Regions from separate parts of the Homo sapiens genome. Here region 2 is linked to region 1. The links come from fine-mapping of genetic effects on gene expression. Tissue or cell type: whole blood. Region 1 holds a variant in brackets; the other region holds the start of a gene. All regions are shown on one strand. Distances are between the middles of the regions.

What was found. PIP is the estimated chance that this variant, and not a neighbour inherited with it, causes the effect.
Region 2: MTIF3 starts here. The variant in region 1 is fine-mapped to the expression of MTIF3 in whole blood (INTERVAL, PIP above 0.99).

What each region holds. Positions count from the first base shown.
Region 1 is chr13:27,058,020-27,062,183 of GRCh38, forward strand. It overlaps LOC105370124 (a long non-coding RNA gene), which reads right to left and starts at 4,130. Exons shown (of 2, transcript XR_941767.3): 1 at 1-4,130. The variant A/AT (reference allele first, on the strand shown) is at 1,763.
Region 2 is chr13:27,448,292-27,452,455 of GRCh38, forward strand. It overlaps MTIF3 (mitochondrial translational initiation factor 3), which reads right to left and starts at 2,273. Exons shown (of 5, transcript NM_152912.5): 1 at 2,218-2,273. RefSeq lists enhancers at 1,510-2,424, 2,268-2,627, 2,648-2,707.

The sequences.
Region 1 (4,164 bases):
GGTCAATTTATTAAAAGCGAATGCTGGTAAACTGTGGTACATCCATACCATGAAACACTCATGCCCCCAAAGCTGGTTCTCTTCCTAGATTCTCAGCAAAAGCCTCCTCCATTGACCTAGCTGTGCAAGCCAGGGAAGCGCAGGCATCCTCCCCTAGGACTCCCTCCCATGGTTAAGGCTTGTCACCTTCTGAACTCTGCTCCACACCCAGCAGTATCTTCTACAAGGACTCATCTCCCAACCCCTGCACACTGTGGCACAGGATCCTAAACCTCATCTCGATTTGTAACTTCACACGCGGAAAGGTAAATTAATGGAATTTCAAATCAGTTCTAATCAATAGTTTAATAGGTAGTAAAATACAGAGTACAAATAATGTGTAGAAATCCAGATACTGCGATGCCCCTACTTTGTGTTCATGATAGGAATTTGTTTTTTGCAGAAAATTTAAAAATACATGTGTTCAACAAACCAATTTAATCAAAATGCAACAACTGATGATTTAGGGAATGATAAACATATGTAGTATTGGGAAAATAAGTCAGATGCTTATTTGCAGCTGTTTTCTGAGGTTTCCATTACATCTAATGGAATAATAATCTATTGTATCTAACGGAATAATAATCTATTCCATTGACATGAAATTTTATGTCTACTTTCCTCCTCATTCTATCATTTTTCCTTCTTAAATGTAAAACTTCAATAGGTTATAAATAACTAGCATCCAGTAAAAGTCCACCCACAAAAACATTCATTTTTGTAGCCTAAGAATATTGTTTGGAAAATGGTTTCTAACTGAAGGAAAAAGCTACCAGAAAAAAAAAAAAAAAAGTTCCAGCAACTAGTTTAAAAACAACACAATCATTGCATTTCTCATCTCAAAATGTGCAGACAGTATATTACTGTCTTGTTTCTGGGCCTGACAGTGGATACAGACTTTGTAATGACATGGCGAATACAGTGGTATCAAAATTCTATTTTATTCTCTGTAATCTTGCTTACGAATGACCCAGTGTGCACTTCAAAGATTGATGATTAAAGATAGCACAGTCATGCAAGGTGAATAGACCATCTCTCAGTTACTTTTTAATGTAAAGTCTTCTATCAAGCTAGTCACGATTCAGAGGCTCCTCAGTCTGAAGAACCTGAATCTTCAAAGGAAGGTGTTTTGAGAGATGGTGGGAAGTGTTTTATTAATGCAGCATAGACTTACCCAACACCAGTAATGTCACTTTGACACCACCCCGCCTGCTCACACTGAAGGTGATATAAACTTGACTGCCACTCTAAAATCTTCAGACTGGTGTTTTGTTCAACCCACCTCTGTTCTAGTCAGGAACTGGTGATGGGATAGTTGCCATCCTAATGACCAGTGGCAATGTAAACTCTCCCTATAGTGTGTTACAGCACTCTAGGTCCAGCTATTTTAAAGGACAAAGGACAGCATAATGCAGAACTAAATATGAGCCCTGGAATAGAAAATATGGGCCCAGGTCCAAAACGCCAGCGTTTTGGGAGGCCCAGGCAGGTGGATCACGTGGTCAGGAGTTCGAGACCAGCCTGGCCAACATGGTGAAACCCTGTCTCTACTAAAAATACAAAAATGAGCCAGGCGCCTGTAATCCCAGCTACTCGGGAGGCTGAGACAGAATTGCTTGAATCCGGGAGGCAGAGGTTGCAGTGAGCCAAGATCATGCCACTGTAGTCCAATCTAGGTGACACAGAGCAAGACTCCATCTCGAAAAAAAAAAAAAAAAAAAAA[A/AT]AATATATATATATATATGCTCAGGCACTAGCTTGGCCATTTACCAGTGACCTTGGGTAAGTTCCCCAGTCTTAGCTGCCTCACCTGGGAAGAAGCTTAAGGTTATCCTGCGCAACCTTCTAGCCCAGGGGTGTCCAATATTTTGGCGTCCCTGAGCCACACTGGAAGGACTGTCTTGGGCCACACATAAAATACACTAACAATAGCTGATGAGCTAAAAATTTTTTTAAAAGGTTCATGTATAAATCTCATAATGTTTTCAGAAAGTTGATGAATTTGTGTTGGGCCACATGCGGCCTACAGTCCATGGGCCGCGGGTTGCACAAGCTTGTTCCAGCCAGTGTTAAGAACCCCACCTATGAACAGTCTAATGACGTACGTTTGACACTTTATTTCTTAGTATGTCAGCTCCTCTCCCTGCTGAACAACCAGGAAGCTCTTACTTGTACTCAGTATGTGGCTCTCTGTCCTTTTCAATGCAGTCCCAATTCAACCCTAGAAGCAAAACATCCCCTAGACAGCAGCTCTTCAAACGATGTATGAGAAGACAGGTGCTACACCCCGTGTAAGTTTTCCCTGAGCAATCCTGAAATGATTTGGTTTTCTGACAACTCTCCCCATGTCAGATCAACTCTGGCTTGGCAGAGACCTTACAGGAACACGCTAGAGAACTCCAGACGAATTGCATCCCACGGAATTCTAATCACCAAAACCCAGCTGATCAGAATCACCGGGGAACTTCTGAAAACTAGTTTTCTCATCTGCAGTGGATCAAAATCTTCAGGGATCAATCTCAGGAATCAAAACATTCTACTAATCATCCAGATTTGATCAAATCAATATAGCGGCACTACTTAAGACAGTTTGGCTAATGGAAAGCAAGCAGGAGGTATGAGCTTTCCTCAGTTATGTTTTATACCACAGTTTAATTATATGACAAATTGTTGAGAACAGGTTTTTTTCTTTTTTGAAATATGGTCTCACTCTGTCATCCAAGCTGGGTTGCAGTGGTGTGATAATAGCTCACTACAGTCTCAACCTCCTGGGCTCAAGCCTCCAAGTAGCTGAGACTACTGGTGCACACCACCACACCTGGCTAATTTTTTGTATTTTCTAGAGACAAGGTCTCCCTGTGTTGCCCAGGCTGGTCTCGAACTCCTGGGCTTAAGCAATCCTCTTGCCTTGGCCTCCCAAAGTGCTGGGAATACAGGCATGGGCCACCACGCCTGGCCAGAACAGATGATTTTTAAAGGATCCAGTTATTTAGATGCATTATAACAGATGTATATGATACAAAATAGAGTAAAATCTTTTTCTCAGGAGTTGGGGCTCTACAGTGGCTGCCTGAGTGAGAATTCCTCAAGAGTAATTTAGGGCCTTTCCTTAGGGAAAGGAAAGGGGAAAATTTAGTTTGATGGAGTCTTAGAAATTCTATTACCCAATAGTATCATAAGTTAATATTCTTAAATTGCAATTATACTTAGTATTTCCAGTCCCTTTGACTGCTGTTGATTTCCAGATTCCCATTTTGGGCTGGACAATCTGACTGCATCCCTGTGATTTCACCAATACTTTCCTACTCTGCATTCCTCCACCTACCCTGTAGAGTTGTATAAATATGTCCATTTATACAGCTGATTTTTCTAGGTTTCCTTTGATTCATTCTCATATGACAAATTCCTCAAGAGCAAAAACTAGGCCTTCATCTTTCTTAATAATGACTTACAGTAAGGATGGAAGTACTGGTTATTGCTAAAAAATCTTTTGATAGTCTCAAACTCTTTCAAAAAGTTGAAGAGGGTGGAACATTTCCTAACTCATTCTATGACAGCAGCATTACCCACACCAAAGCCTGACAAAGACACTACAAGAAATAAAAATTACAGACCAAAGTCTCTGATCAATATTGATGGAAAAATTGTCAACAAAATACTAGCAAGCTGAATTCAGCAGCGTACTAAAAGTATTATGCACAATAACCGAGTGGATTTATCCCTGGAGTACAAGGATAGTTTCACATATGAAAAACACTATAATATATCACACTGATAAGATAAAAAAAACATGTGATCTACTGGGCGCAGTGGCTCACGCCTGTAATCCCAGCACTTTGGGAGGCCGAGGTGGGTGGATCACGAGGTCAGGATATCGAGACCATCTTGGCTAACATGGTGAAACCCCGTCTCTATTGAAAATACAAAAAATTAGCCAGGCGTGGTGGCGGGTGCCTGTAGTCCCAGCTACTCGGGAGGCTGAGGCAGGAGAATGGTGTGAACCCGGGAGGTGGAGCTTGCAGTGAGCCAAGATCACGCCACTGCACTCCAGCCTGGGTGACAGAGCAGGACTCCGTCTCAAAAAAAAAAAAAAAAAAAAAGGGATCATCTCAATTGATACAGAAAATT
Region 2 (4,164 bases), 390 kb after region 1:
CTTTCCTGGGAGATTGGATCAAAGTTGCATAGATTCTAGCGGACTAAATATTTGTGAAATTAATTTTGCCAATTCTCATGACTCTAAGAACTCTTTTACACCTTCCAAAGAAGTTTCATAAAGTCCTTGCTTCTGCCTGCAAACTGTCCCAGTTGCCCCATTCTGGCCTGAGCAGTGCAGCCTTAATCCCAGAGGGCCTGCGCTACCGTTACTGGGCCTTCATGCTCCCCTCCCTTGGCTCTGGTTTTGCTCTTCCATAGGGAGCACAAAGTGTACTCTCCATAATGAGGCTGAGCTGTTTACGTGCTAGAACTCCCATTTAGAACACTGGAAAAAGCCAACATTATATCTTTGGCCAACTATTTAACCTTATTTCTTTAGCTATTAAATTGAAATAATAACCATATGTTTTAAAAAGCTTTTAAACCCAGAGCTAAAGACTCTGTATTAAAAACTGGACTTACGGCCGGGCACGGTGGCTCACGCCTGTAATCCCAGCACTTTGGGGAGGCTGAGGAAGGCAGATCACTTGAGGTCAGAAGTTCAAGACCAGCCTGGCCGACATGGTGAAACCCCATCTCTACTAAAAATACAAAAAAACTAGCCGGGCCTGGTGGCGTGAGCCTGTATTCCCAGCTACTTGGGAGGCTGAGGCAGGAGAATCACTTGAACCCGGGAAGCAGAGGTTGCAATGAGCTGAGATCGTGCACCGCACTCCAGCCTAAGCATCCAGCCTAGGCAACAGGGTGAGACTCTCAAAAAAAATTTTTTTTTAACTTATTCTCCTATGTTAATCCTATGTTAGTCTTCTTCCAGAACTCTAGTGATGGGATCACTACCCATCCACAACCTCCAGTCACCTCCAAGACACCTTTGACGCCTCCACTTTCCCAGTCAACCCAACACCAAGCCTCATCGACTTCATTTCCTAAACCCCACTCGAATCCATCCAGTCCTCTCCGTATCCACTGTCACCACCGTCAGTTTAAAACATCGACCACCTCGTTTGGATTCCTGCCAGTCTCCTAACTCGGCTTGAGCCCTGGCAACCAGTTCCCACTGCACTGCGGTCACTACACCCAGGACCTTCCTCACCTTAAATAAAACTGCCCCGAGATTAAAGATCTACACCTTCGCCAGGCCAAAAGGCCCTTCCCACCTCTCCAGTTTCTTCTTTATGCCTAGGCCACACTGGCCATTCGGTTTTTGAAATACAGTACTCTCGTCCTTGGTTTAGGAAACGCCAGATCCTTAGCGCATTCTTCTGATTACCTTCCAAACTAAGCCAGTTCTCCCATCCCTCCCCCAATTTACTGAGCTTAACACTGAATGCTTCTACAGTCCAGTTGACCTTTCCTTTAAAACATTCATTACAATTACAGTTTTGTGATGATCTTAGCACTGCTGTTCTCCATCACTAGACCGTAAACTCTACGAAGCAGGAACAAAATGGACTTATTCGTTACTGTGTTGTGCCTGACAGAATGAATAGTAGTCGATTTTCAGATTCTTCTCTCCATCCTCTACTTTTCTAAGACTTAGGCCTTTCACAACACGTACTTGAAACTGAGACTTCTCAGTAAGAGAACTTCGTTTACTTGGTTCAAGTCTTAAGCCACGGAGCCCACTAAATGACAAATGAGAAAAAAAATCCCAGTCACTTCGCGACCTTCCCCCATAAGGCCTCCTCCCGCAACAGCAGGCAGCAAGAACAACGCATTTGTCCAGCATGTCCTGCGCAGGCGCCCTTCGCCTGGCTCGCTCTGCCCCACCTGTGCCAGGCAGTAAGCCGCAAGAGCACTTCCGGGAGCCCCCGACCCGGTTGTTGGTAAGTCGGCGGCGACGCCCACCTGCAGAACGGGACCGGCGGAGCGCCAGGGCTAGAGACGGGACGTAGCGACGTACTGCGTGCGTGCGTGCGCACAAACGAGGGCGCGCATGTCGGGACGGAACTAGAAAAGCTCAGTGGGGCTGGCGGCAACTCTAGGTCTAACATCCCTCGGAAGTTCGTGCAGCGGCCTCGCTGAAAATGGCTTTACAGCCCGGCAGAACCCTCCGACTCCGCAGCAGGACCTGCGGAGCCTCTCCGCCCTCGGTACCGGCGGGACGGGGTAGCCCTGACCTTCCGGGTGCCTCCTCCACAGGGGCGCCCCCTAAGGCCACGCCCTCCCGATGCCGGTCCGCGCACCGCTCCGCACGCCTCATATTTAGCATTACCTGTGCTGGGGCAAGCGATTGACATACTGTAGCGGACGCAAGTACAGCGGATCTGCGGCGAGTCCCCTTCGCTCTCCGTAGTGGGCGGGGCTTCACCCCGCGTCCTTTAAAGGAAAGGTGATGGGCGGAGCCACGTTTTTCTACTGTTGGGATTCAGTTCCGCCGACAGAAAATGCGGAGAACGCGGAGGAAGTCCCTGAGGGGAAATTGCTGCTCACCTGGCTCCCGCTGCTCCGCAGGTGCGGTGAAGGCTAATGTCGAATTTCTGCAGCAATCGGAGCAGCCCTTACTCCAGTTACATTAACACCAATCTCGGTCTCCCACTAGGGCTTTATAAATTGCTTTCATAAACGTCTTTTTAATGTAACACTGAATAAAATGTTTTATAAGCGTCTTTTATAAGGATCGTAAGTGAAAGGGCGCTGTCTCCGATTTGCAGGTGAGCAGACAGCTTCGGAGTGAGAACGGCTCCCCGCGGGTCCCCGGTGGCGCGCGGCTCCCGGAGGCAAAACAAAGCTGGGGCCGGGGCGTCGGAGCCTCCGCGTTGTAGTTGGGAGAGGTTCGAACGGGGCCCCAGCTGGCGAAAGGGAAAACGGACCCGGACCCGGACCCGTGGAGCCTGCTCGAAAGCCGGGTGCTGGGGGTCTGGGCCCCGTGTCCCCCCTCTTTTTCTTCTTCAATAAGAAATTCCTCAAGGGCAGACTGCGAGTCCACAGTCGTGAAGCCACCTAATCTGGCTTCATACCTGGAATGTTTGGATTCCTGGTACGAAGAAAAACTAACATTTATTGGCTACTTGTCCACTGGAAGGCGTTGTCTTATTTCTCATTAACTCCTTGAGTCAGCATTACGTCTTTTATTACAGATGACACAACTACTAAAGCTTTAAATAGTTCTTTGGGAGCAAAGACGAAATCTCCATTTCCTTTTTAGCTGCTGGTAGCTCGACGCTCACTGTTAAAATAGGGAGGTAATGAAACAACTCTTGTGTGAGACCGAAAGTCCAGGTGTGCATCTTGGCCATTTCCAAGTTAATCAAGAAGAATTAAGGATTCATTTTATTCTATCAAAATTATTTCTCAATGCCAAGATATTTTGTGTGACGTAGATTCGGGGACAGACTGAGTAGCACAATACCTGGGAAAAGTTAGGTGCTCAGCAATTATAATTGCCCACATTTGTGATTGCTTTTGCCTATGTGCCAGACACTGTTCTACGCACTGAACATATCTCAAGTTATTCAATCTTCAGGACAACCTTATGAGCCAATTATTATTATTACCCATTTTACAGATGAGGGAACTGAAACAAATTTGCCCAAGGTCGCACAACTAGTAGCAGAATCAAGAATAAAAAAGCCAAAAAACCCCAAACCCAGGCAAACTTTAAATGTTCCTTGCATTGCTAGACTGAAGTAGTGAGAGAAACAGTAAACAGTACGAGTCCATGAAAACATTAAAAGGATGTGAAGTATGTACAAGTAACTGAAACATTTAATGCCCAAACTAAAGACTTAAAATTTGCTAAGGTAATAGCACAGGTAGATTCACACCAAGTAATCACTGGTAACTGAAGCTACCGGCCAGCATCCATTTGCAGTCCGTCTTTGAAGGCAGCTGTGTCCAGAGCAGGTGGTTTAGGAAGCTTTCTAGACTTCCATTGTCAGATGTCTCCACGCCTAGAAGATGGTGCTTTAGTGTTCCTGGGAGGAGACATGCAGAGATGGGGTGGCAATTACAGACATGCCCACAGATGGAGAGAAGCCATTTTTTTCATCTTTTCCCTTGAACTCTTCTTTGACCTCCAGCCGAAATGGAGCTTGGCAGCTTTTGTGGGGTTTTTTGTTTTTTTGTTTTGTTTTGTTTTGTTTTGTTTTTGGAGATGGAGTCTCTCTGTGTCGCCCAGGCTGGAGTGCAGTGGCGCGATCTCGGCTCACTGCAACCTCCA